Regions from separate parts of the Homo sapiens genome. Here all the other regions are reported to be linked to region 1. The links are microRNA targets in miRTarBase. Many come from high-throughput screens and were not tested one by one. Region 1 holds a microRNA gene; each other region holds the end of a gene's coding sequence.

What was found. Region 1 holds the annotated microRNA hsa-miR-6760-5p (CAGGGAGAAGGUGGAAGUGCAGA, at 4,926-4,948, opposite strand). A microRNA usually pairs through its seed, bases 2 to 8, with sites in the 3' UTR of a target mRNA and lowers its output. Matches are read on the target gene's strand: a 7mer-m8 pairs with bases 2 to 8, a 7mer-A1 pairs with bases 2 to 7 and ends in A, and an 8mer does both.
Region 2: miRTarBase lists GJA5 as a target of hsa-miR-6760-5p. Seed matches in the 3' UTR shown: 7mer-m8 at 1,923-1,929 and 8mer at 2,339-2,346.
Region 3: miRTarBase lists ACTR3B as a target of hsa-miR-6760-5p. Seed matches in the 3' UTR shown: 7mer-m8 at 5,975-5,981.
Region 4: the mRNA of TPM2 is a reported target of hsa-miR-6760-5p. The part of its 3' UTR that is shown has no 7-base or 8-base seed match.

What each region holds. Positions count from the first base shown.
Region 1 is chr12:111,301,976-111,309,094 of GRCh38, reverse strand. MIR6760 (microRNA 6760) reads right to left here and starts at 4,953; the gene lies at 4,886-4,953. CUX2 (cut like homeobox 2) reads right to left here. Exons shown (of 22, transcript NM_015267.4): 10 at 4,781-4,885; 11 at 1,983-2,174; 12 at 1,838-1,896; 13 at 762-810; 14 at 569-668. The region is part of intron 2 of LOC105369983 (a long non-coding RNA gene); the gene reads left to right.
Region 2 is chr1:147,752,124-147,759,242 of GRCh38, reverse strand. It overlaps GJA5 (gap junction protein alpha 5), which reads left to right. Exons shown (of 2, transcript NM_181703.4): 2 at 1-3,044. The coding sequence starts at 5. The coding sequence ends at 1,081. All of the region lies in intron 1 of LOC102723321 (a long non-coding RNA gene), which reads right to left. Among named protein-coding and RNA genes, the nearest start is that of GJA5, 4.9 kb to the left of the region's middle. RefSeq lists a silencer at 568-862 and an enhancer at 5,473-7,119.
Region 3 is chr7:152,853,644-152,860,762 of GRCh38, reverse strand. ACTR3B (actin related protein 3B) reads right to left here. Exons shown (of 12, transcript NM_020445.6): 12 at 5,385-6,305. The coding sequence ends at 6,210. Among named protein-coding and RNA genes, the nearest start is that of ACTR3B, 97 kb to the right of the region's middle.
Region 4 is chr9:35,677,032-35,684,150 of GRCh38, forward strand. TPM2 (tropomyosin 2) reads right to left here. Exons shown (of 9, transcript NM_003289.4): 9 at 5,901-6,210. The coding sequence ends at 6,128. CA9 (carbonic anhydrase 9) reads left to right here. Exons shown (of 11, transcript NM_001216.3): 6 at 759-825; 7 at 2,154-2,311; 8 at 2,823-2,967; 9 at 3,082-3,108; 10 at 3,722-3,803; 11 at 3,934-4,128. The coding sequence ends at 3,994. Among named protein-coding and RNA genes, the nearest start is that of CA9, 6.7 kb to the left of the region's middle.

The sequences.
Region 1 (7,119 bases):
CATCTCTGCTAAAAATATAAAACTTAGCTGGGTGTGGTGGTGCATGCCTGTAATCCCAGCTACTCAGGAGGCCGAGGCAGGTGAATTGCTTGAACCCAGGAGGCGGAGGCTGCAGTGAGCCGAGATCACACCACTGCACTCCAGCCTGGGCGACAGAGAGAGACTCGGTCTCAAAAAAAAAGTCAGCGGGTGGCTGACAGGGTGATCATGTCCGCAGCCTACTGCTCCCCACAGTGGTCGGCTGTGGGGGGTGTAATGACAATGCCCTGCTTGTCCCCCTGTGACCACTTCATGAAAGCCGCTGCAGCTCAAGAAGGCTCAGTGGGGAGTGGAGCTCTTTAGGGGGCCTTGGAAGGGCCCAAACCAGCTGTGTGACCCCAACGATGACGTGGGTGTTTGTGGATGCCCTGCAGGACAGGCATACAGCAGGTGCCAAATCAATGCACACCTGTTGTTCTGTCGTTCTCCTGCCTGCATGGAAGGCAGTGGTCCTTGGGCATGAGAAGGCCAGAGACCCACAGGCAGCCCCCGCCCCAGCCCTCAGCCCCAGAGTATCCTCCTCCCCTACCAGGGCTGGCCAGGAGGCTGGGCTTCTCCAGAAGGAATTTCTGCGTGGGGAAGAAGGCCTCCTTTGCAATAAGCAGTGAGTCTTCAGGCTTGGCCATGCCCTAGGAGACAAGAGGCAGGTTGAGAGGGCACCTGGTGGGCGGAAGGCTCACTGGGGCAGCCTGCCCTGCAGGGATGGTGGCAGGGACACTTACCTGGGGGAGGCTGCAGGTGCTGGAGGCCAGCTTCATGGCTTTCAGGATGCTGCCAGAGCAAGTGGAGAGGGTCTGAGGTCAGCCAGCCCCCGGGCTGGAGGAGAGGTCTTTCAAGAGGCACTGACCCGGCTTACCTCCCTGACAATGACTGCTCCATTCCCCAGAACCCCATTAATTCCAGAGTCATTGCAACCCCAGGCCTGAAGTAGCAGGCTCATTAACAGGTGGCGATGTTACCTGGAGGGGTGCTGCCTGAACTGACCCATTCTGGCCAGCTTGAGTTTAGCTGGTTAATGAATCACCTTCCAGTTACCATGCCTATAATAAGTTCCCTTGTATGGTCTACAGGCAGCTTCTTTTTTTCTTTGAGATGGAGTCTCACTCTGTCACCCAGGCTGGAGTGCAGTGGCACGATCTCTGCCTCCCAGGTTCAAGCGATTCTCCTGCCTCAGCCTCCCAAGTAGCTGGGACTACAGGTGAGCGCCACCACACCTGGCTAATTTCTGTATTTTTAGTAGAGACAGGGTTTTGCCCTTTCGGCCAGGCTGGTTTTGAACTCCTGACCTCAGGTGATCTGCCCGTACAGGCAGCTCTTAATGGAAAAGGACTGAAGATGGTTGAATTTCGTTTTGTTTTTGAGACAGGGTCTCACTGTGTTGTCCAGGCTGGAGTGCAGTGGTGCCACCACAGCTCACTGCAGCCTTGACCTCTCAGGCTCAAGCAATCCTCCCACATCAGCCTCCTGAGTGGCTGGGACTACAGCACGCATCACCACCACTCCTGGCTAATTAAAATTGTTTTTTTCTCACAGAGATGGGGTCTCCCCATTGTTGCCCAGGCTGGTCTCAAACTCCTGACCTCAAGCGATCCTCCTGCCTGGGCCTCCCAAAGTGTTGGGATTACAGGGATGAGCCACTGCACCTGGCCTGAGGATGGTTAAGGTTTGATATCCACAGTGTTAGTGGAGAGAAGAACAAATGGGGTTTAGTAGGAGGGAGGAAGATGATGAACTTTGCCAAGAGCTCCTGGCCAGGGAAGAGCACTGAGGGTCTGTGGAGCCCCACCCCACATGGTACCTCAGCTCCGTTTTAATTTCCTCATAGTCAGACTGGGCCTGGAGCTTCTCTTCCAGCTTCTAGAAGAGCAAAGAAAGATGGTGAGGCTGGTCTGTGTGCTTCTGCATGGGGCCGCCTGCCCGCCTGCCTCCTCCCCAGGACCCACTTCTATGGCCTCGGACTTGGCCGTGAGCTGCCGCTCCAGGTCGGCGATCTGGTTGGCGGATGCCTCCTCCAGCTCCTGCAGTGAGCTCTGGAGGTGCTGCACGTCCTTCAGCAGCCGCAGGATCTCCCTGTCCTTGGAGGCCAGCGCGGCCTCCAGCCGAGGGCCCGAGCACAGAGTGAAGTTCACCTTATCCTGCAGGCAAAGGGGTCTTTGAGGGGCTGAGAGGTGAGGGATGGGGGTCCACAGGTCTGGCCTCCCCACCCCTGAATCCCAAGCAGAATGCAAATTTGTTGATCTGGATGATGGTATGGGGTGTGCTTGTGTTGAAAAATTCAAAGTGTTGTATACTTATGACTTGTACACTTTTCCTTATGTATTAAGTTACACTTTGATTAAAAGATTTATTAAAAAAGAATAGCCATGACAAAAGGAAGGAGTCAGCTGAGGTTGGGGATTGGGTGCTCGCACCAGAGGAAACAGCATAGGTAAAAGTTTGAGTTTCTTTCTCAGGTCTGGCTCCTACTCCAGGGGGATGTCCCCATTCTAGGCAATAAGGGACCCTCAGGATTAGACTTGACACCTTGGAGCCACGGACCACGTTATGGGCGGCTCTTTCCTCCGCCTAATTTGCTGATAGCCCCAAGACCCATGGCTTCTCCACATTTTAGGAAATGGACCCTCTGTCCTGGATGAAGATGGAGAGGTTGCTGTTTGAGGAACCTGAAGTCAGGCTGATGTCAGGCTTAGTTACAAATAAATCTAAGAAACATTAAAAAAAAAAAAAAACCAAACAAACAAAAAGCCCCAACCCAACCCCAGCTTTCTTCCATGGAGATAAATGCCAATTAAAACAGGAAGCGGATGCCATTAATACATTAAATTAATTAGCATCGAGTGCCACTGTTGTGCTCAGAAAAGCACACCCCCCAAACCAGCAAAGTTCCCTGGGGCTGATTAGCACAGGCATTTGCCGGGTTCCACGGGGGTTAATTAAGAACCATTGGCAAATTCCTCTACGAGGCATCCTCATGGGCTCTCACTCTCCATCTCTCTCCACACAGCCTCTCTCTCCTGTGTTCACTCTCTCTGTGTTATGCCGTCACCCAGGAACATGGACACACACAGAATCTCCTGGGACACAGACACAGGCTGACACACAAGGACACACCTATAGCCACAGCACACACTAACACATGCAGTTTCCCAAATATGCTGACACACACACACAAATACACACGCATCAAAGAGAGACACTCACAAGGACACATCATCACACACAACAGACATGCGCGTGCTCAAAGAAGCCACATGCTCTCATGAGCAAAAACACCCCAGACACACCAAAGACACATTAACAATTATAACAGTAGCATCAAGTACTTAGTGAGCATATACAATGACCCAAGCACCATTTTAGGCACTTTACACATAATCCATTTTTTTTTTCAGAGACAGGATCTTGCTGTATTGCCCAGGCTGGACTCAAACTCCTGGGCTCAAGTGATCCTCCTGCCTCAGCCTCCTAAGAGGCTGGGACTACAGGCATGTGCCACCATGCCTGACTCATGTAATCCTTTTAATAACCCTATAAAGTAGATGTTAATTGTACAGATGAGGAAACTGAGGCACAGTCAGGTTAAGAATACAGTCAGTTGCCCAAAGGTCACAAGTAGAGACACACATACACAGTAACACATTCATAGAGACTCATTCCAATATTCAAACAGAAAGAGAGACATAGACACCTGGGCCTGTATATGTGGGTGTCAGGTGAAGTGAAAATTATGCTCGCAAGTTCAGGTTCATGGGTGGAGAGGGAAGTCACCCTGGAGCAGACCTGTTATTATGTAAGGAATCATGAATCTCACCCCTTGGTATGTAGAGATCTGGAAATAAGGCAGACCAATTCACATAATGAACCCAAGGCTCTCTGGGAGAGCCAGGATGGAGACTGCTAATATAGGACAGAAGGGTAGGTTGGGGTGGCCTTGATGAAAGTCTCTTGTCAAGAAATGACACTAGGACCCCAAAGAGGCACAAACCAGGAGGAAAGAGAAAGATGAATTGATTAATCAGGCCTAACACAAGAACCTCAGGGTTGATCACCGAAGACTGGCTCTTCATAGCATGTGGCTGGGGTGGGAAATCCCCCTAGAATCACCTGGCATGCTTTGGAAACCAATGGCTGAGTATGAATGTTAAATTTTATCTTGGTATGTGGCCCCACTGCAGTCCTGGTGATGACTGCCTGTTGATATGTTGGCTGGCTCACACTCCTAAAAGTACCCAGTTTTGGGACTGAAAACCAGCAGGGGCATCACCATCCCAAGCATGCACAAAGCTGCTATGACCGGTGTTCAACAGCGACACCTGGTGGCAGCCACCAAAACTGCATGCTGCTGTATTGCCTCAAACTCCCTCTCCCCCATGTCTTTGCTGGTGCATCTGGAAATCAGAATGATCTTTGGTCTGAGGAAGTTCCTGGCATTCTTGGATAATTGGGGATAAGGGAGGCCTCCAAAGGAAGATACTGGAACTCCTGGTAATAAAGGGTATATGGAAACGTGGGCTTGAAAAGTAAAGAACTGTAGCTGTATTTTTATCCTCAGCTGGTGTAGCAGGTCATAGTGATTATGCTCACCGTATGCACAGAGACCCACACACATTCACACTCCCAGTTTCAAATGGATGCACACAATCAACCACAAAGTGTCACCCACATGCTGAAACCTGCAAACTCAGCCATTCCCGATCTTTCCCTCTGCCCTCCCTGCTCACTTCCCCAACCCCATCCTTACCCCACTGGGCCCCTGGGGAGAGCAGCAAGCCAGGCGGATGGAGCTGTTGACAGAGGCCAGCTGTTCCCGGAGACTTTCCACCTCCCGCTGGGCAGCCTCAGCTCGCTGGGGAGAAGGGGACAGTGTGGGCGAGAGGTGAGCCCACTCTGCACTTCCACCTTCTCCCTGCACTGTTTCAGGCAGGGGTTGGGGAGGCAGACCTCCGAGGGCCTCAGGTCCTGCCTTCCTAGTCCCGGACCCTGTCCTGGAGCTATGAAGACCAGTCACAGAGCCCTGTCTGGGCTGGGGACAAGAAATAGCAGCCTCTGGGGTTACTCCTGAGCTGAGAGGACAGGAAGAAATGCCCCTCTGAGGAGGTTCTGGGTTCTCGTGGGGTGCCTGGGACCCCCAGAGGAGTCAGAACATTCCTGCTCTATGAAGGCAGGATGAGAGAGGCTCTCTGGGTGGGACTGGCAGGTTTTCACACATTTCTAGATACTTCTGTCTGCCACATTAACTTCAGGCCTGGCTAGTCTGAAGGCAAGAGCTGTTCCAACTCTCATGCCACCTGGTATGGAATGAGTCCCAGACACGGCATCTGCAAAGGTGCTTTCCCAGGCCACAGGTTATTGCAGCCCCTGGGCAAGTCACTTCCTCTCCCTGGGTCTCAGTTTCTTTTCTTTTCTTTTTTTTTTTTTTGAGATGGAGTCTCACTCTTGTCACCCAGGCTGGAGTGCAGTGGCACAATCGTGGCTCACTGCAAGCTGCCCCTCCTGGGTTCACGAGATTTTCCTGCCTCAGCCTCCCAAGTAGCTGGGATTACAAGTGCACACCACCACACCCAGCTATTTTTTGTATTTTTAGTAGAGGTGGGGTTTCACCATGTTGGCCAGGCTGGTCTTGAACTCCTGACCTCAGGTGATCCACCCGCTTCAGCCTCCCAAAGTGCTGGGATTACAGGAGTGAGCCATCGTGCCCAGCTCAGTTTCTCTTTTTGAAATGGGGAGCAATGAAAACATCTAACACAAAGAGGTTTTGAGTGGTTAAAATCAGAATGCAGCAGTTCACTAAACTGGGTCTATGGTCGATTTTTTTTTTTTTTTTTTTTTTTTTTCGAGACAGGGTCTCGCTCTGTCACCCAGGCTGGAGTGCAGTGGTGCAATCAGGGCTCACAGCAACCTCCAACTCCCGGGATCAATTGATCCTCCCATCTCAGCCTCCTGAGTAACTGGGATTACAGGTGTGCACTACCATGACGGGTTAATTTTTGTAGTTTTAATAGAGACGGGTTTTGCCATGTTGGCTAGGCTGGTCTTGAACTCCTGGGTTCAAGTAACCCACTTGCCTTGGCTTCCCAAAGTGCTGGGATTACAGGCATGAGCTACTGTGCCCAGCTGGTAGATTTCTTTTTCTTTTCTTTTTTTTTTTTTTTTTTTAAGACAGAGTCTTGCTTTGTTGCCCAGGCTGGAGTGCAGTGGCACAATCTTGGCTCACTGCAACCTCCACCTCCTGGGTTCAAGCAATTCTCCTGCCTCAGCCTCCTGAGTAGCTGGGATTACAGGTGTGTGATGCCAGGTCTGTCTACTTTTTGTATCTTTAGTAGAGACGGGGTTTTTCCATGTTGGCCAGGCTGGTCTCTAACTCCTGGGCTTAAGCAATCCACCCACCTCAGCCTCCCAAAAGTGCTGGGATTACAGGCATGAGCCACCACACCCAGCTGGTAGATCTTAATTCTTAAAAAATTTCTACCTGGAAGGAAGCATTCAAATGTTAATACATTTAATCTTGTGGCTTTGGAGAGAAATCTGGGCTCACATTCTGACTTTGCAACTTTCCGGTTATGCGATCTTAGGCAAGAGGCTTCATCTCCCCAGCCTCGGTTTCCCTATTAATAAAATGGGGATTATAAAGGCAACTATCTCATAGGGTTGTTCTGCAAATGAAGTGGTTTGGCCAAATGCAATTTGGTAGATATCTTTGCTTGGTGCCTGGCACATATAAATGCATCAATAATTGGTTAACTTTGTTAACATCATGAGGGTATATTACTTGAGCCATTACTTAGAGAATTAAAAGAGCTGTGGCTGTATTTTTGCCTTTGGCTGGTAATGCAGGTCATAGTGATTATGTTTAACTACATAATGACCTGGACAATCAGGATGCTATGCCCAATGTATGCATATTGAGACCCATACACATTCATGTTCACATTTGAATTTATTATTTATTTATACGTATCTTGCCTTGTTCCAGAAATGGTTCAAGTCAATTTTGTTTTGGGAAGAGTTTCCTGGTATGTGGGACTGTAAAGGAAATATTTTTATGTTTCTGTACAGTTAGGGAACCCTGAGCATATCTGA
Region 2 (7,119 bases), not on the chromosome of region 1:
CAAGATGGGCGATTGGAGCTTCCTGGGAAATTTCCTGGAGGAAGTACACAAGCACTCGACCGTGGTAGGCAAGGTCTGGCTCACTGTCCTCTTCATATTCCGTATGCTCGTGCTGGGCACAGCTGCTGAGTCTTCCTGGGGGGATGAGCAGGCTGATTTCCGGTGTGATACGATTCAGCCTGGCTGCCAGAATGTCTGCTACGACCAGGCTTTCCCCATCTCCCACATTCGCTACTGGGTGCTGCAGATCATCTTCGTCTCCACGCCCTCTCTGGTGTACATGGGCCACGCCATGCACACTGTGCGCATGCAGGAGAAGCGCAAGCTACGGGAGGCCGAGAGGGCCAAAGAGGTCCGGGGCTCTGGCTCTTACGAGTACCCGGTGGCAGAGAAGGCAGAACTGTCCTGCTGGGAGGAAGGGAATGGAAGGATTGCCCTCCAGGGCACTCTGCTCAACACCTATGTGTGCAGCATCCTGATCCGCACCACCATGGAGGTGGGCTTCATTGTGGGCCAGTACTTCATCTACGGAATCTTCCTGACCACCCTGCATGTCTGCCGCAGGAGTCCCTGTCCCCACCCGGTCAACTGTTACGTATCCCGGCCCACAGAGAAGAATGTCTTCATTGTCTTTATGCTGGCTGTGGCTGCACTGTCCCTCCTCCTTAGCCTGGCTGAACTCTACCACCTGGGCTGGAAGAAGATCAGACAGCGATTTGTCAAACCGCGGCAGCACATGGCTAAGTGCCAGCTTTCTGGCCCCTCTGTGGGCATAGTCCAGAGCTGCACACCACCCCCCGACTTTAATCAGTGCCTGGAGAATGGCCCTGGGGGAAAATTCTTCAATCCCTTCAGCAATAATATGGCCTCCCAACAAAACACAGACAACCTGGTCACCGAGCAAGTACGAGGTCAGGAGCAGACTCCTGGGGAAGGTTTCATCCAGGTTCGTTATGGCCAGAAGCCTGAGGTGCCCAATGGAGTCTCACCAGGTCACCGCCTTCCCCATGGCTATCATAGTGACAAGCGACGTCTTAGTAAGGCCAGCAGCAAGGCAAGGTCAGATGACCTATCAGTGTGACCCTCCTTTATGGGAGGATCAGGACCAGGTGGGAACAAAGGAGGCTCAGAGAGGAAAGACGTGTCCCTTCTGAACTGATGCTTTCTCACTGTCATCACTGCTTGGCTCCTTTGAGCCCCGGGTCTCAATGACGTTGCTCATTAATTCTAGAAACTATAACCAGGGCTCTGGGATAGTAAGAGAGGTGACAACCCACCCAGACTGCAGTTCCCTCCCCACCCTCTACCCAGTATACGAAGCCTTTCAGATTACTCATGAAACAGGGTAGAGGGAAAGAAGGGAAGCATGGCAAAAGCTGGCCTGGAAGGGATAGCCAGAGGGATAGAATGACTCTCTCTCTACATACCAGCAGCATACCAAATGCGTTCTCTAAGTTCCTACCTCCTTGACCTGATCACCCTCCCTCCTCCAAGGAAGAGCTCAAAGTTCCCAGCCAATAGACAGCATGAATCAAGGAACTTGCATTATATGTGCTCTTGAATCTGTTGTCTCCATGGACCATTCCTCGGAGTAGTGGTGAGATGGCCTTGGGTTGCCCTTGGCTTCTCCTCCCTCTACTCAGCCTTAAAAAGGGCTTCTTGGAACTTTACCAGCAGCCTCAGCTTTACAAATGCCTTGGTATGTACCTCTGGCAAATGCCCTGGTATGTACCTCTGGCAAATGCCCCACCTTGGTGATGTTGCAACCTTTCCTTCTGCTAGGGTGTACACCTAGCCTGTGCAGGTGTCAGCCCTGCTAGGGAGTCACTGTACACACAAACTCTACTGGAATTCCTGCCAACATCTGTCACCCTGCAGCTCCTTTACAGTTCAATCCAATGATAGAAACCATCCCTTCCCTTTCTCCCTTGGCTGTTCACCCAGCCATTCCCTGAAGGCCTTACCAACAGGAATATCCAAGAAGCTGTTGTCCTCTCTCGAACCCTGACCAGATCATCAGCCACTGAGGCCAGTGGAATTTCCCCAGGCCTTGTTAAAACAAAGAAAGCATTGTACTTCTCAGATTCCCCTTGTGGAAAAAAAAATTCTGCTGTGAAGATGAAAATAAAAATGGAGAGAAAACACTGGAAAACTATTTTCCCCTCCTATTTACTTCCTTTGCTGACTGCCAACTTAGTGCCAAGAGGAGGTGTGATGACAGCTATGGAGGCCCCCAGATCTCTCTCTCCTGGAGGCTTTAGCAGGGGCAAGGAAATAGTAGGGGAATCTCCAGCTCTCTTGGCAGGGCCTTTATTTAAAGAGCGCAGAGATTCCTATGTCTCCCTAGTGCCCCTAATGAGACTGCCAAGTGGGGGCTGTAGAAAAGCCTTGCCTTCCCCAGGGATTGGCCTGGTCTCTGTATTCACTGGATCCATAATGGGTTGCTGTTGTTTTGGATGAAGGTAAACGATGCTTGGAATTGGAAACTGAGACTTATAGAGGGATTATTACATTATTAAAATGCACGTGTGTGTGTGTGTGGGTGCTGATGGGATGGGTAAAGGCTTGGGGAGTCCTGAAATAAGGAAAGGAAACCACAGAGAAACTTGTGTCTTCCTGCTCTCCTCTCCGGCTGCCTGGCAGTTATTAACCTAAACAGATAGCCACAAGAGGTTGGGACAGAGGAGGGTAAAGGCTCAGAAGGAGGTTCAACCTCTGACTCACCTGCCCATCTCTGGGCCCTCTGCTGACACTTGGATGCTATTGTTGGGTGGAAAGATAAATGAGAGTGGAGAGGTGGAGGAAAGTGACTAGGATGCCATTTAGGAAGGAATGTCTGATCATCCCGGGTCCCTGGAGGGGACACCTTTTAATCTATTGCCTAGCATTAATATTTTCTCTCCTTCTATCTCTGAAATGTTTTATGAAATGAGTGTTCTTGAATTAGAAATTCTGTGGGATCAATCTTTGATGGTGAGGGTTTTAGAAAGGAAAAATATAGTAAAATGTGTAATTTGTCTTAATAAAATCTATCTCTACATCTATCTCTCTTTTGTTGTCCACTTCATACTGTGACTACAAGAGAAGGATGGCAGACTTGGTGGGGAGGGGAGCGCTTGGACTATACCCATCAGTAAGCCAGTAATGCAAAGAGCTTTGAAGTCAGGCATGCAATGGTTAAAATTCCAGTTGTTAACTTACATCTGGACTCCAGCAAGACAATCTCTGAGCCTTGGTTTCTTCATCTGTAAACTGGGCCCCATTAATATCTACCTCATGGGGCTGTTAACTGAGCTGTTAAGTACCTCATAGGGCTGTTAACTGAGTTGACTGTAAAGAGTTTAGCAGAGTGCTTGGGAAATAACAGTCATTACATGGTAATTGTTGTTATTATCTGATTATTTTTGTTATTGTTTTGAATACACAGTATTTGAAAATGGGATGTTGAGGGATGATTCCAGAACTTCCCTTTATCAAGCCCACAATCTGCCTAATGTGATCAGAGTAACTCACATTATTCTATTCTAACAATTAGAACAGAATTAAACACGAATTCATTTATCATCAATTCTAGGAACCATAGGCTCCAGGAGGTGATACATAAAAAATAAAACAAAACAGAACAAAACAAAAAACTAACAAACTACACAGAGAAGAGGGGAGACCTGACCTGGACCTAAAAATGAGAAGGCTTTAAAGAAGTATAGACCCCAAGGATGAGTCTGTGAAATAGGTGTTTGTATCACCATTTTACAGATACGTAAACTGACGCCCAGGAGAGCTCCCTGAGAGTGGGGCTGCTTCTCACTGGCTCGCTATTGATATTTCATCTATTTGGAAGAAGAGAAATAACTGTTGCTCCAAACAAAGGGTCAAGGGACCGGCCACTTAGCCTTTCACCAACAAATGGGTGTCATTTCTGAGAGAAGATTAGGAAAGACAAACAGAAGTGTAATCTTAACTACCAATCAGTCTTGTTTATCAGGGCAGGAAAGCTTTTTAAAAAAGGTCTTGCAAAGAGATCATAGAACGCATATTATGACACCAATATGGAGACTTAGGAGTACACCTGGCCTCTGTCTGAGGATAAGGTGCTCCACCCAGAGATACCGCAGTAGTCTAACCAGAGAAAGCACTTGGAACCCATTTTTTTCTCCTAGAAAAAAAAAAAAACAGTCCATCTCACATGTTTATAAACATAGTCATTAACATTTAACAGTTCATTATATGCTGGACTACAAAAAGTAACTTATAGTAAGATTTCAACCTCATGTATGTCTACTCTCATTTTCTTTCTTTCTCCCTCCCTTCTAAAGCTTCATCACTAAAGAGCATAAGCTGGTTGGTAATAGAGTGAACACACTCAAGTTGCAGGCCTCTTTAGGCCCATTTCCTTAAATTGCTTCCTCCAGTGCCAGATAAGACCAGAATGTTTCATTCCAATGGCTCAAGTGTTTAAGTGGTTAAATGCTAATAATACTCCTATGTAAAATCATAGTATGAATGGGTTTCAGATTTTTTCCTAATAGCAAATTGCGATACCAGAGAGAAAAACAAAAGAACAAGGACGGTAGGCACCTTGCAGGCATCTTGAAGGATTGCTGTCATGATGTGGAAATCAGGAAAACAGCGAGGCTGGAGGGAGCTGCCCACGTCCCAATCCTCAGGAAGTTCTGGAAGCCCCTGCAGTTGGTCCTTGATAATAAACAGATTTTTTAAAATCCTAGATTTTTAAGTAGAATATGATTAAGGATTTTCCCTTTCACTGGTCACTTGATGATCATCAGAGATAGGTAGAGTCTATAGTTTTTTACTGTTTCAAGTGGAAAATATTGTCACTCAACAAAGAATTATTGACCAGCTATTTTCAGGTAGGCATTATGTTAGGCTTTAGGAGTATAATTTTAGAGACCAGACATGATTTCTGCCTTTTGGATCTTAGAGTTTGGTGGGGAAGGCACTCTAACACAAATAAACAAATAAAATAATTTTTTTGTGTGTATGTGTGACAGGGCCTCACTGTGTTGCCCAGGCTGGAGTGCAGCGGCGCGATCTTGGCTCACTGCAAACGCCGCCTCCTTGGTTCGAGTGATTCTTGTGCCTTAGCCTCCTGAGTAGCTGGGATTACAGGCATGCAACACCATTTTTAGTAGAGATGGAGTTTTGCCATGTTGGCAAGGCCGGTCTCGAACTCCTGGCCTCAGGTGATACACTTGCCTCAGCCTCCCAAAGTGCTAGGATTACAGGTGTGATTCACCACACCCAGGGCTAAAGAAAATAAATTGTGACAAGTGTCATGAAGGGAACAAGGGGTTAGCAAAGGTGGGCTGAGAGATTCTAGTATTCAGATAGGGTAGCGGAAAGTCTTTTCTGAGGAGGTAACATTGAAGCTGAGATGTGAAAGTTTAGAAGCCAGGCACTGATGCGCAGGGGAGGAACCCAGGTGGGTGAATCTAAATTCCTTCCAGAAAATTCCAGAATACAGCTGTCCCTTATCTCAGTTTAGTCCAACATTTTTGAAAGACAGAATTCAAGCAGTAACTAAAACAGCATGGTTTGGCGCCAACTGTAGCAAAACACACATACCTCTTTCTGCAAAAAATTCAAAGGACAGTAATCTTTTTACTCAAGGAAGCAGAAGGGGCATATGTAAAAGATCTGAATTAAAACAAGAAAATATATGTTAAGTTCTAAAAGCCCTATTTTTTTTTCATGATCAGGAAGACTGTCAGAATCCACCAGTATCAATTCTGATAACACACTTTGGGCCTTCTAAACTAGGCCTATTCTGTGGGGTAGGGCTGGAGAGGGGAGGCAGGGGTGCTCGGGGACAGAAAGGAGTACAGTCCAGGCTTGTTGGAAGAAGACTATATCCAAAGGGGCTGGGAAAGAGCCAGCAGGGCATGGCCCAGAGTAGCCTTAGCATCAGGGAAGTCAAAGCAGCAAAACATCAAGTACACAGAGAGGTGGGGAATGGGGAGGGTGGAGGAGCACATAGCAGGGAAGCCAAGCCGTGGAAGTTGTGTAAGACACCAGACAGGCAGGCAGGCACTGCTGGGGACATGTCTCAGCTGGCAGTAGGGCCCCAGACCCTGATCTGGATTTGGAGCTGGACTTCCAGACTCAGGGAAGGGAGTCTGACATGGGCAGAGCGGAACTTCACCCTAGTAGCTGGGTTACTAAGCAAGGCACTAGGACAGAGTCTTGGATAGAGTACAAGCAGGCTCTTGTACTCTTGTGGGGCCCATTATCAGAATTACAGAGCTGCAGATGAATAAACTGAGTCAAGCTCTTCATGGCAATATATATGATGTTTATAGATACAGTACCTTCAAAGCCTTAAACCAAAGGAATGACAACCATGAGACTTCTAAGCACCTCATCAAGCCGGCGGGTGGGGAGATGATTTGGGGGTTGGAGGCTAATGCTTTTCTTTATCTATCTCCACCTTCAGCTAAGGGCAGCACAGCCCCGGGGGAGGCCATCGCTTGGCAGCAAGACTCAAGCCCCCTCAGTCCCTTCAACCTGACAGAATTTTCCATTACCCTGATTCAAGGCCCTTATGGGACTGCGTGCATGTACTTGCTAACAAAGGGTTTCTCAGAGAAAGTGAGAACTAAGCAGGAACCTTTCAGGAGTGTTCATCGCCCTGGGCTCTGCAGCCTGGCCAAGGCTAAATCCCCTCCAGCAGCAGCTGCTGTTCAGCTAACGGGGCAGGATAGAAAGTTATTTTATACCTTCTTGGGACTTGTCTTTAAATGTGATAAAATATAACCTGGAGGGGATTACATTTACAAAGGTTTGAGGTAAAATTCCACATTTGAAACCATTGTAAAAGCTTGTGCAGGGTGTAGTTGGCTGGGGAAAAGTCAATTTAAAAACCCTCACATATTTTAATAGTAATAATGAAATACACCTTCAATTATTAAGTGCTTGCTGTTTTCTAGGCATTGTGCTAAGAGATTTTATGAATTGCTATTTCATCCTTACAGTAATCCTTCAAGGTTATTTGACCCCATTTTACAGATAAGGAAACAGACTTAGATTCAGTAACTTGCACAGCTACTAGGCAGTAGGATTGGGATTTAAACCTGCCTTATACTTCTCTTAAGTGCTCAT
Region 3 (7,119 bases), not on the chromosome of region 1:
AGATACTTTTAAAAGAAACATTATGAAATATTATTCAATTAAGTAAAGAATTATTTAATAGATAAATATTCTTAATGGGCCTCTCTTGTGGTTTTCAATAAGCTTTGCACTTGATTAACCCCACAAGCCTGTCTGGCACAATCGTAATTTCTACAAATGAGATATAAAGGAGGGATCATAAAGAACGAATTAATCACCGAACGATCTGCACTTCAGTCACACGAGAGCTCATTATTCATATGAGTAAAGCTGTGGAATGAGCTACGACTGCCATAAAACACAGGCACATCTTCAAGGATTCTGCAGGGTGATTGCTCCACCGGCCTCTGGCTGGCGGCACAGCAGACGCAGGCAGGCGGCAGCCTTAGACAAGCTTGATCCTCTACTCTTCAGGTTCCCAAAACCCTCCTGAAGTCCATGCCCAAGAGTTAGATTTTATGATACCATTAAACTCTTAAGGTAACGATAGCTACATCCTGGGTGCTCACCGTCCTACAGTTATCCAGACACACAATGTGTCTCAGCACCAGAGCACACGCAGCCCAGGAAAACCAGTGATGCCTTCTTCTTGTCGGATAGGAGCTTAGTTAAGTGTCTACGGGGCACCTACCAGACCTTGTGAAGGCCTCGGGGGTTCCCAAGATAAGCACCATACGGCCCCCATGTTCCAGGACGTCAGTCCAGCGAGGGACACAGGTGTCATTGGTGCATTGGTAAAGGAGGGGCTGTCTTCTACACACAGAGGGGCAGCAGCAGAGGAGGGTGAACATCCCGGACAGGCAAGAGCACTCCAGGGAAGGGAACAAACACCTCCAGGGGGGCCACTCAGGGCACCTTCCACCATACTGCCCCCAAGTGGCAAGGCTATGGAACATGCACAGCCCAAAACAGAGACATCCTCATGTGGCTCAGATGGGATGACTTGGTCTGGAGCCTAGTGGGGAGACAGCTGCCATGCAGGCAACCCAGGGCTCCAAGTGGCTTCCTTTTCCTTAGATGGACGATAAAAGTGATTCAATCATATCAGCTACAGTGGTAAGAAAAGCCCCGTGAGTCTGCATTCTACAACTACATACTAGTATCTTTTTTCTAACCCTTTCTTAATGGAATTCCTAAAGGCAATACAGTTCATGAATCTAAAATTCCCTTTTCCTATGCTGAAAATTTTTTAAACACAATTTTGATAAGTAGAGCTCTTAAGACACAGCAACTGCTTTGTAACAGAATAATAATAATGGCTAGAATTTATTGAACACTTACTAGGGGCTAATTATGGTTCTAAGCACTCAGATTAACAACCATCTTGTATTTGCCTTGTAACATAAAGCCAGTGCACCTGATAAGACATGTATTAACAAAGCGCTGTGAACAAAAATGAAAATAATTTTACATCTAAACATCCCGCATCAGTAGCTTCCTGGAACACGTTACATACCAAGGGATCTGGATTCGAGGGGGATTTCCAGCTCCCCATGGCCATTTCCAAACTCTTTCTACTCTACTATCTGATGAAGTCATGCTGCAGATTCCTATCACTGGGTTTTACCACCCGGTCTCTCACCAGTTGCTATGACCTACTTCTACAAGACTGGAGAAAATAGATTCAATATGACTTCTCGGTGTCCTGGCTGTGTGGTTTTGGCATGTTGTTGAATTTCTTTCAGCCACAGGTTTCCTGTCTGGAAAATGGGAGTAGCAATACCAACTTCATAGGGTTCGGTTCAGGTGAAAGGAGGCTACACAGCATCACTCCCAACGTGGGGTGACTCTCGGCGCAGTGCCCAGCTCACGGTCAATGCTCAGCTCCTTGCCACCCCCGAGACTGAGGCACGACTTCAGGCAGCTGGACCAGTCTTACTTTCATCTCCACCCCCACAGCGTCCTGCGTGAGCCAGCACCCACCAGACAACCTATCCAATGCCCTTCTCTCAAAATTCCCTACATTCTTCCATTTCCAGTGAATTTAAACTCTACACAATCACCACTTCCATGACCCTGTTATCACTGAGAGGTGCTCCACCTCTGAAATCTTAATCAGTATCGTTCTTCAGGACCACAACCTCCTAACCTTGAAGCCCAGGGCCGCCAGTCCTCAGACGCCTCCATTCCTCCCAATCTCTCATCTCCCTCTGCTCCCACCCTACCTGGAGTCCGTGGTCCCTCATGTTAGCAGCAGAGAAACCCCGTCTACACCTGCCTGCCCCCAGGACACCTGCCCCACCCATCATCACATTTGCCTGGCAAAACCCAAACCCCAACCCCTAAGAAAGCCTCGCCTTCTTCCCTCCTCAATTTAGGCTACATGGAAATGGAAACTCAATCAGAGAGAGTCCCCCACCCACCTGCAGTTGGTCAACGCAAGCACCAGGTGCCTTCTGCGTTTACCCTTCCTCCCTCTGTAAGCGATGCGGTCACCTCCCCCGTCCTCAGCAGCCCTGATTGGCTCCTCTTCTACAGACCCCACTTCAGGAGTCTTTTCTCTCATTTTTTCCCCAACCCTCACCATATGCAGAAACAAACTCATAAGCTTCATGTTACTTAGTCTAATCTTGGCTTAAAAGTTCACGAAACAGAAGTTAAACCCTCAGGAACAGCTGATGAATATCCGCAAAGAAGTGAGAGGCTGTTTCCTCAGGTGTGTTGGAAAGAGCAACTCTGAGCCAGCGGTCATATCATCTTAGAAAGGTAATGTTTGTTAAATATTCACATACTAGTTGCCAGATTTTTTTTTTAAGTTAAGGCCGTTCGTATCATATTCTCACCATCGTAAAGCTGAGTTTATGTCTAAATCTGTTGAATAGGGCAAAGCAACTTCCTGCACTTTTTAAGAAGGTCTCACTCTGTTGCCCAGGCTGGAGTGTGTGGCATGACCCTGGCTCCTGCAGCCTTGAGCTCCCGGGCTCAATGGATTCTACCACCTCCACCTACCCAGTAGCTGAGACTACAGGTACTCACCACCACACCTGGCTCCTGCACTATTAAAAGGTTTAATAGTCCTAAAGACTGTAGACTTATAATTTTAGAATTTAACGAGTGTATTTGATGAAATATTTTTTACAGAAAACTGCTCACCTGGAGTTGTAGTTTTGTCATAGGAGGTCGATTTTACCCATCAACTCTAGGAATACTTAACTCATTTCTATATTATGATCTAACTCATTCAACCTGAACAAAAGGTATGTGCAGATTTTATCAAATTTACTAACTGTAAACATTTTTCTTCCTTATAAAATGACGGGTGCACATGACCATCACAGTTCATTTCTATCTATAGTATCTGCCAGGCTCACTGAATAAACAAAAAATGATAACTCACCTCTATTAACAGGAAAAGGACCATTACAATTCTCCCACAGATGAGCAAACAGAAAATAGGATCTCATTTGCTTGAGGAACAGCCAGAATTGGTATTCAGATCTTTTTGAGTCAAAAACCCTTCCTTCTGCTCATAAGCCTTTCAGATCCAGCTACGCTGGCATTGCCTAAGGAGTTTAAAAACAAAAAGCAAAAATTGGATGCCTTCCCTGGGGCTCCTATTCTGATTCTCTTAATTTGGGATGGGTCTTGCCCAGGGTTGAGAACCACAGCATCATACCTGTCACATTGTAATGGATCATTCTGTCCTGTCAATGTAGGTTTAAAACAAAATGTTCTCGGCCTGGCACGGTGGCTCACGCCTGTAATCCCAGCACTTTGGTAGGCCAAGGCGGGCAGATCACCCGAGGTGGGGAGTTTGAGACCAGCCTGACCAACATGGAGAAACTTCATCTCTACTAAAAATACAAAATTAGCCGGGCATGGTGGTGCACGCCTGTAATCCCAGCTACTTAGGAGGCTGAGGCAGGAGAATCGCTTGAACCCGGGAGGCAGAGGTTGTGGTGAGCCAAGATTGCGCCATTGCACTCCAGCCTGGGGGACAAGAGCAAAACTCCATCTTAAAAAAAAAATTTAAAAAAAAAATATATATATATATATTCTCCCACAGTTCTTTAAGTTGACAAACAGAAGTACAATCTCAAAGCTAATCTTGTACCAAAGAAGGCACAGGGAAGCTTTGGGTATCCTGTGGTGGAAGGACAGCTCATACAGCTCTAGCTTAGCCAGGCTGCCACAGCACTGACATACAGAGTGGTGTTATTCCCAGGGTTTGGAGAAGGCGCAACAAAGCACCTGCCAACGCACAGATGCAGAGCAGAGGTGGGAATGACGGTGCCCACTGTGAGATGTGCAAAGCATGCTGAATCGGGCGGGGCAGGGTGGAGATGGGAGTATCAGGTAGGTCCCTGAATAGCACAGAACTAAGAGGAAAATGGCGTTAGAAGGAACGGCTCTCGCTGCCACGTTCAGGGTGCAAAGGTGTGACTGAAGGCAGGCAGACCAACCGGGAACTTGATGCAATAAAATGGCTGGAAGATCATGAGAAGCCAACGGTACAGCAATCCCGAGAAGCAGCAAATCCCCCAAGGGAATGCAGAGAAACACTACGGATGAGGGGAGAACCAGGTGGTACCAGACTCTTGACTGGGGAGACTGAGGGCCTAGCACAGTGACAGTATCAGAGATTCGGTCAACTGAGGTTGGTAAACTCAGATTTCACCATACTGAGTTCAATATTAAACTTATTTCTAAACTCAAATAATAACATAACTTTTTTTTTCTTGTTTTTGTTTTATTTAAGACATGGAGTCTCACTCTGTCACCCAGGCTGCAATACAGTGGCTCAATCCTAGCTTACTGCAGCCTTGACCTCCTGGACTCAAGTGATCCTCCTGCCTCAGCCTTCTGAGGAGCTGGGACTTCAGGCGCACACCACTGCACCTGGCTACGTTTCTTTATGAAGGCAAATTTTCTGAGAACAAAACATATTTCATTCACCTCCTTTGAGAGTGAAACTAAGGAAAAAATTTTAAAACAGAACAAAAAAAAAACATACTTCACAACTTAGAAGAAATACCATAAATAACAATTTTTAAAGTAACATAATTATAAGAATAATATGAAGAGTGAAATCAACCTAAATCTATTAATTGAGCAAATTACCTTTCAAGCTAGCAGTCCATTCAGCAAACATCAGAGTAGTTACTGAAAGCTTACAGTCATGAATCCTGAACTTCTAGGAAGGAACATCAGAAATCATTAGGCACTCCTTCCCACTATACCCCAGATTCAAAAACCATCTCTGACGGGTTATCCAGACCCACGATACCCCCAGCGATGGAGTGGTCACTGCGGGGCAGGCAGCCCACACCATTCGCGAAAAGACATTTCCTCCCACAAGCTGAGTATTAATCAAATTCTCCAATGATGTAAAACAATGTCAATATTCTTTAAAGGAGGCACAGCGACAGGGAGAAAACCAACAGACCACCACACTACAGCAGAAAGATATTTACAAATATTCTAACAGCTTTTATTACAATGGTGCAAGGAAGTATTTCATCCAACACTCACCGACAACAAACCATCATCTTCTATAAAACAGCTCCAGAAAGTTCAAACAAAAAAAACTAAAAGATACATGTATCTGTAGTAATTCTCATACATTACTGTTTAGTGTTCAAACTTCATGTCACTCCAATAAAGTATAATCATTTTCTAGCAAACATGTGGCAAAAAAGTTTGCTGTTTTATTTGTTTGCCTATAAACATATCAGAACATGCCTCACAATTAAAAACTTTGGATTACAGCACTCCATAACATCAATATCTATTCGTGCTTAGTATCAGCCAGTTGTACCAAATACCATAAAATACAAAATGATAGGAAATATAAACATCGATTTGTATTTCAAGTTTAAACATTTTATTTACAAAAATAGGCTGGGAGGAAAAGGGTTTGCGCCCCCACATTCTCTCCTGGGACCTAACGATTTTGCGCCATTTTCTAATGTTGTTTTCTCTAACAATTTTCAAAGTCACATTTGGATTCCTTCAGAATTGTATTTGTCAGCTAGCAGCTCGGAGGAGGAGGAGGAGGGAGAGCGAGGGTGAGGAGGGCGGGAGAAGGAGGAGGCTGGCAGACAGCGGTCGGCACACGGATAAATGGCTTTTACTGAAGGGCCCGCGCCGCGCCTCATGCACCGGCAATGCAAGCACGCTGCTGGGCAGCAACACCGACGTCGCTATTTACAGAACGGCGGCCTTCTCTGGGTTCTGAAGGACACTTGTTCCCCAACGTGACACCATCGAACGACGCGTTCAGGCAGACACTAGGACATGACTCCAAAGACGGGGTTGTGGCGGCAGATGCTGGGCCCGTACTCTTCATAGTCCTTCTTGGTGTGGCAGACCTGAAAGAACTCGGGCTACGAGAGGCAACAGGCAGACAGAAAGACACTCATTTCAGAAGAAAGTCAAGGGAACCAGCTACCAAGCAGGCAAGACACTCTCCTCATCCCGGCCTCCACCCTCCCTCCCAGGACCGCTGCTGCAAGATTTTACCTCTCTGATGTACTAAACTACTAAATGGGGAGTTATTTCACTTTTTAGAAATTTCATCAGCCTGTATCTTCTTAGGACCAACCAAATGCCGGTCCCCCACTAACAATGTGTGAGCTATTCACAAATGTGAGGGGGAAAAGTAATAATTATTTGGAAAAGTCACTGGAATTAATGATTAATGCAGGACTTTTTTAGATTATTTTTGGATGCCACTTACCATGTTTTCTGTAACCCCTAATTAGCAAGGACACGTGATAAATGTGTTGTGTGATTATTAAGATATAGTTTATATCGGGCCGGGCACAGAGGCTCACACCTGTAATTGCAGCACTTTGCGAGGCCAAGGCAGGGGGGTGGATCACCTGAGGTCAGGAGTTTGAGACCAGCCTGGCCAACACAGCAAAACCCCATCTTTACTAAAAATACAACAAAAAAAAATGAGCCGGGCATGGTGGTGAACGCCTGTAGTCCCAGCTACTCAGGAGGCTGAGGCTGGAGAATTGCTTAAACCCGGGAGGCGGAGGTTGCAGTGAGCTGAGATCGCACCATTAAACTCCAGCCTGGGCGACAGAGTGAGACTCCATCTCGAAAAAACAAAAAAGATATAATTTATATCTTACAGAATGGTCTGTTTAGAGCCACACGATTAGGGCACACACTATTTCACCTTCGTAGACA
Region 4 (7,119 bases), not on the chromosome of region 1:
TTTTTAGTAGACAGGGTTTCACCATGTTGGTCAGGCTGGTCTCAAACTCCTGGCCTCAAGTGATCCGCCTGACTCAGCCTACCAAAGTGCTGATTACAAGTGTGAGCCACCGTGCCCAGCCACACTCACTGATTCTTTAATGCCAGCCACACAGCACAAAGTTCAGAGAAATGCCTCCATCATAGCATGTCAATATGTTCATACTCTTAGGTTCATAATGTTCTTAACATTAGGTTCATAAGCAAAATAAGAAAAAAGAATAATAAATAAAAGAAGTGGCATGTCAGGACCTCACCTGAAAAGCCAAACACAGAATCATGAAGGTGAATGCAGAGGTGACACCAACACAAAGGTGTATATATGGTTTCCTGTGGGGAGTATGTACGGAGGCAGCAGTGAGTGAGACTGCAAACGTCAGAAGGGCACGGGTCACTGAGAGCCTAGTATCCTAAGTAAAGTGGGCTCTCTCCCTCTCTCTCCAGCTTGTCATTGAAAACCAGTCCACCAAGCTTGTTGGTTCGCACAGCAAGAGTACATAGAGTTTGAAATAATACATAGGATTTTAAGAGGGAGACACTGTCTCTAAAAAAAAAAACAACAGCAACAACAAAAAGCAACAACCATTACAATTTTATGTTCCCTCAGCATTCTCAGAGCTGAGGAATGGGAGAGGTCTATGGGAACCCCCCTTCATGTTCCGGCCTTCAGCCATGGCCCTGGATACATGCACTCATCTGTCTTACAATGTCATCCCCCAGGAGGGCCCGGAAGAAAACAGTGCCTATGAGCAGTTGCTGTCTCGCTTGGAAGAAATCGCTGAGGAAGGTCAGTTTGTTGGTCTGGCCACTAATCTCTGTGGCCTAGTTCATAAAGAATCACCCTTTGGAGCTTCAGGTCTGAGGCTGGAGATGGGCTCCCTCCAGTGCAGGAGGGATTGAAGCATGAGCCAGCGCTCATCTTGATAATAACCATGAAGCTGACAGACACAGTTACCCGCAAACGGCTGCCTACAGATTGAAAACCAAGCAAAAACCGCCGGGCACGGTGGCTCACGCCTGTAATCCCAGCACTTTGGGAGGCCAAGGCAGGTGGATCACGAGGTCAAGAGATCAAGACCATCCTGGCCAACATGGTGAAACCCCATCTCTACTAAAAATACGAAAAAATAGCCAGGCGTGGTGGCGGGTGCCTGTAATCCCAGCTACTCGGGAGGCTGAGGCAGGAGAATGGCATGAACCCGGGAGGCAGAAGTTGCAGTGAGCCGAGATCGTGCCACTGCACTCCAGCCTGGGCAACAGAGCGAGACTCTTGTCTCAAAAAAAAAAAAAAAAAAGAAAACCAAGCAAAAACCAAAATGAGACAAAAAAAACAAGACCAAAAAATGGTGTTTGGAATTGTCAAGGTCAAGTCTGGAGAGCTAAACTTTTTCTGAGAACTGTTTATCTTTAATAAGCATCAAATATTTTAACTTTGTAAATACTTTTGTTGGAAATCGTTCTCTTCTTAGTCACTCTTGGGTCATTTTAAATCTCACTTACTCTACTAGACCTTTTAGGTTTCTGCTAGACTAGGTAGAACTCTGCCTTTGCATTTCTTGTGTCTGTTTTGTATAGTTATCAATATTCATATTTATTTACAAGTTATTCAGATCATTTTTTCTTTTCTTTTCTTTTTTTTTTTTTTTACATCTTTAGTAGAGACAGGGTTTCACCATATTGGCCAGGCTGCTCTCAAACTCCTGACCTTGTGATCCACCAGCCTCGGCCTCCCAAAGTGCTGGGATTCATTTTTTCTTTTTAATTTGCTCTGGGCTTAAACTTGTGGCCCAGCACTTTATGATGGTACACAGAGTTAAGAGTGTAGACTCAGACGGTCTTTCTTCTTTCCTTCTCTTCCTTCCTCCCTTCCCTCCCACCTTCCCTTCTCTCCTTCCTTTCTTTCTTCCTCTCTTGCTTCCTCAGGCCTCTTCCAGTTGCTCCAAAGCCCTGTACTTTTTTTTGAGTTACGTCTTATGGGAAGGGCCTGCACTTAGCGAAGAAGTGGTCTCAGAGTTGAGTTACCTTGGCTTCTGGGAGGTGAAACTGTATCCCTATACCCTGAAGCTTTAAGGGGGTGCAATGTAGATGAGACCCCAACATAGATCCTCTTCACAGGCTCAGAGACTCAGGTCCCAGGACTGGACATATCTGCACTCCTGCCCTCTGACTTCAGCCGCTACTTCCAATATGAGGGGTCTCTGACTACACCGCCCTGTGCCCAGGGTGTCATCTGGACTGTGTTTAACCAGACAGTGATGCTGAGTGCTAAGCAGGTGGGCCTGGGGTGTGTGTGGACACAGTGGGTGCGGGGGAAAGAGGATGTAAGATGAGATGAGAAACAGGAGAAGAAAGAAATCAAGGCTGGGCTCTGTGGCTTACGCCTATAATCCCACCACGTTGGGAGGCTGAGGTGGGAGAATGGTTTGAGCCCAGGAGTTCAAGACAAGGCGGGGCAACATAGTGTGACCCCATCTCTACCAAAAAAACCCCAACAAAACCAAAAATAGCCGGGCATGGTGGTATGCGCCTAGTCCCAGCTACTCAAGGAGGCTGAGGTGGGAAGATCGCTTGATTCCAGGAGTTTGAGACTGCAGTGAGCTATGATCCCACCACTGCCTACCATCTTTAGGATACATTTATTTATTTATAAAAGAAATCAAGAGGCTGGATGGGGAATACAGGAGCTGGAGGGTGGAGCCCTGAGGTGCTGGTTGTGAGCTGGCCTGGGACCCTTGTTTCCTGTCATGCCATGAACCCACCCACACTGTCCACTGACCTCCCTAGCTCCACACCCTCTCTGACACCCTGTGGGGACCTGGTGACTCTCGGCTACAGCTGAACTTCCGAGCGACGCAGCCTTTGAATGGGCGAGTGATTGAGGCCTCCTTCCCTGCTGGAGTGGACAGCAGTCCTCGGGCTGCTGAGCCAGGTACAGCTTTGTCTGGTTTCCCCCCAGCCAGTAGTCCCTTATCCTCCCATGTGTGTGCCAGTGTCTGTCATTGGTGGTCACAGCCCGCCTCTCACATCTCCTTTTTCTCTCCAGTCCAGCTGAATTCCTGCCTGGCTGCTGGTGAGTCTGCCCCTCCTCTTGGTCCTGATGCCAGGAGACTCCTCAGCACCATTCAGCCCCAGGGCTGCTCAGGACCGCCTCTGCTCCCTCTCCTTTTCTGCAGAACAGACCCCAACCCCAATATTAGAGAGGCAGATCATGGTGGGGATTCCCCCATTGTCCCCAGAGGCTAATTGATTAGAATGAAGCTTGAGAAATCTCCCAGCATCCCTCTCGCAAAACAATCCCCCCCCTTTTTTTAAAGATAGGGTCTCACTCTGTTGCCCAGGCTGGGGTGTTGTGGCACGATCATAGCTCACTGCAGCCTCGAACTCCTAGGCTCAGGCAATCCTTTCACCTTAGCTTCTCAAAGCACTGGGACTGTAGGCATGAGCCACTGTGCCTGGCCCCAAACGGCCCTTTTACTTGGCTTTTAGGAAGCAAAAACGGTGCTTATCTTACCCCTTCTCGTGTATCCACCCTCATCCCTTGGCTGGCCTCTTCTGGAGACTGAGGCACTAGGGGCTGCCTGAGAACTCGGGGCAGGGGTGGTGGAGTGCACTGAGGCAGGTGTTGAGGAACTCTGCAGACCCCTCTTCCTTCCCAAAGCAGCCCTCTCTGCTCTCCATCGCAGGTGACATCCTAGCCCTGGTTTTTGGCCTCCTTTTTGCTGTCACCAGCGTCGCGTTCCTTGTGCAGATGAGAAGGCAGCACAGGTATTACACTGACCCTTTCTTCAGGCACAAGCTTCCCCCACCCTTGTGGAGTCACTTCATGCAAAGCGCATGCAAATGAGCTGCTCCTGGGCCAGTTTTCTGATTAGCCTTTCCTGTTGTGTACACACAGAAGGGGAACCAAAGGGGGTGTGAGCTACCGCCCAGCAGAGGTAGCCGAGACTGGAGCCTAGAGGCTGGATCTTGGAGAATGTGAGAAGCCAGCCAGAGGCATCTGAGGGGGAGCCGGTAACTGTCCTGTCCTGCTCATTATGCCACTTCCTTTTAACTGCCAAGAAATTTTTTAAAATAAATATTTATAATAAAATATGTGTTAGTCACCTTTGTTCCCCAAATCAGAAGGATGGTATTTGAATTTCCTATTACTGTTATTAGCACGAATTTAGTGGTAATGCATTTATTCTATTACAGTTCGGAGGTCAGCAGTCAGATGTCAGTAGGGCTTGTTCCTCCTTCCACACATCACTCCAATCTCTTGCTCCCATTGTCACAACTCCTACCTCCACATTTGACCTCCTTGTCTCCTCAAGAACCCTTGGGATTACACTGGGCCTAACTAGATAACCAAGGATAATCATCCCATCTCAAAATCTTAATCACCAAGTTTCTTCCCATGTAAGATAAGAACAATGCACAGGATTAGAACATGGACATCTTTGGAGAAGGGGAATTATTCTGCCTACCACAGATGCTATCAGGAAGAGGACAGAAATGACTGATACTGTTGGGATGGCTGTGTGTGTGTGTGTGTTTGTGTGTGTGTGCAGTGTATGTGTTGAGGGGTAGGGCAGACAGCAGCCCTAGGCTTAACATCACACTCAGGCTTTTGGGTTTTCACCCTGCTCAAGGAAAATGTGTCACTTCTTGCAGTTTTTGCTTCAGGACGTGCTGTCTGGCCCAGCTGGCTGCTGGAACAGGGCGGTGCTATGGATGGCAGCTCCTCTGCCTGTAGGGCACAAGGCCCACGATGTCCCCCAGTCCTGTCAGACTCCCTGCTTCACAGAGCCTGTTCACAGCCCCTCCTCAATGAGCCCAGGCCCTCCATCCCAGTTTCCCCTGAAAAGGAAGTCCCAATGCAGAGCAAGGACCCAGGCCCTGCTCATTCAGGGGTCCCTCAAACTCCATTGCCAACACCAAAGAAAGGATTAAAGGGCCTTGAGAGGCTAGTAACATCAGTTTTATTGGGTTGGGGTGGCAACCATAGCCTGGCTGGGGGTGGGGCTGGCCCTCACAGGTTGTTGAGTTCCAGCAGGGTCTGGTCCAAGGTCTGGTGAATCTCGACGTTCTCCTCCTTGGCACTGGCCAAGGTCTCTGTGAGGGGAAGCAGCAGGTGAGGGAGAAGGGAGACACAAGGGGGAGACGTGGGGAGGCAGGGCCAGGGGAAGGTGACATATAGACATGGAGTGGGTCAAGGAAGACACATGCATTCACGGACCTCAGGGCCCCTTGGCAGGGACAAACAGATGGACTGACTAGGATGAGGGGAACAGGACGGACGTGGATGCCTCACTCAAGGCCTTGGGGTCATAGAGGTGGGGTGGGGAGGGCTGAGTCATAAACTACTTTATCCTCTTCTTTAGAAGGTTTAAGGAAGTTGGAGACAGAAGGTAAGACAAAGACTGCGCCAGGAAAGGAAGGGCCAGACAGACAGACTTGAGGTAGAAAACAGACCTGCTGCTGCAGTGAAAGCCCCATGTTGCTGATATCCAACATTTTTCCAAGCTCCATTCCAGACCTTTTGCAACCTTCTTGCCCCTGTCCTGCACCTCACCACCCTACTTCCTTTCCAGTCACTCTGTTTGATCCTGGAACCCCAGCTAAGTGCTCTGAGGTCAGGGATTGGCACCAGAGGCGGTCATGGTTTGATGGGGCCACACGTGCCCACATGCAGTGGTGAATCAGAGAGCGACAGCCAGGGAGTGCCTGTGCAGAGGGGTTTCAGCGTGGGCCATGGTGTTTTGTGGGTGGGCTCAGTGCAGGGGCTGGGGGTGTCAGTAAGTGCCAGGGTGTCAGGAGTGAACCAGTGCTCCGTGGTGGCGATAGAGGTGCTCTCTGGAGGGCAGGAAAACAGCATGGAGACCAAGTTCAGAATTTATTAAGCAGCAAAGGAGGGTGGAAGGGGATAGGTAAAGGATGAAGCCAGTGCCAGAGTGGGTGGTGGGCATGATGGGGGCTCTCCCTAGGCTGCTCCCAGCCTGGCTGTGCAATGTTGGCAATTTCTGCTCCTCCTGCCTGCTCCCCTCCCCATAGAGAGAATGGAAAGGAGAGGAGAGAAGAGAGCTGAGGTGGCCACGCTGGCGTGGGGCTCAGAGGGAGGTGATGTCATTGAGTGCGTTGTCCAGTTCCTCGCTAATGGCCTTGTACTTCATCTTCTGGGCATAGACTTCATCTGGGGGGGGTCCAGGGAGGGGACCAGGTGGGAGTGTGGGAAAGGGAGTGGAGGGAAAGAGGAAAGGAAGGAGAGAGAGCAATGGAAAGAAAAACAGAATCAGAGGTACACAAAGACAGAGTGAGAGAGGGAGGCCAGGGAACAGGCTGGACAGCTGTCAGGAACTCCTTCTCCCCATCTCTACCCCATCTCTTTTCTGTCCTTCTCTGTACCCCAAATTGGCTCTACCCATGGCAGCTCCTGCCTCTCCAGGGAGCTGTGTGTACAATGCTCTCGACAAGCAGGAGTGCTTGCTTAGAGGGGAGAGGGAGGGTGCTGGAGCCAGAAAGGGCAAACCTCCTAAAGCTGGAGGTAAAATTGGAGCTTGCCTGAGAAGGCTGGAAGCGAGAGAAGTGGGAAAGTGAAAGGGTTATCACAGAATAAAAAGGAAAGGCAACTTTAGCCACATCATCATTAACAATAGAAATAGCCACAGACTCACAAATATCTGGATGTTTGCTTTTGTCAAATCTAGCTTAAAATAGTGTTTTCTATTAGTGCTGTCATGCAGACCTAGATGTTCAGTCCAACAGCTCTCTAGTTAATAAGCCAGTCTCTGCACTAGAACTCTACTGCGTTACACTCGGGGACGGAATTGTCTATAAGGGTGCCACTCAGAGTGTGGCATGAGGACCAGCAGCATTGGCAGTACCAGAGAACTAGCTAGAAATGTAAATCCTCCAGCCCAAAGTCAGCAATCTCTTTGGGGCAGAGTCAAGGAATCTGTTTTTAAAACTCTCCCAGTGATTCTCATGCATGCTGAAGTTTGAGAAGCACTGGAGTTGTTGCGCCGTGGGCAGCTACAATTACTTGAATTGTAGACATGGCCCACAGAGTTGGGGAGTTGGTAGGGTCCTAGGTGGCCCAACC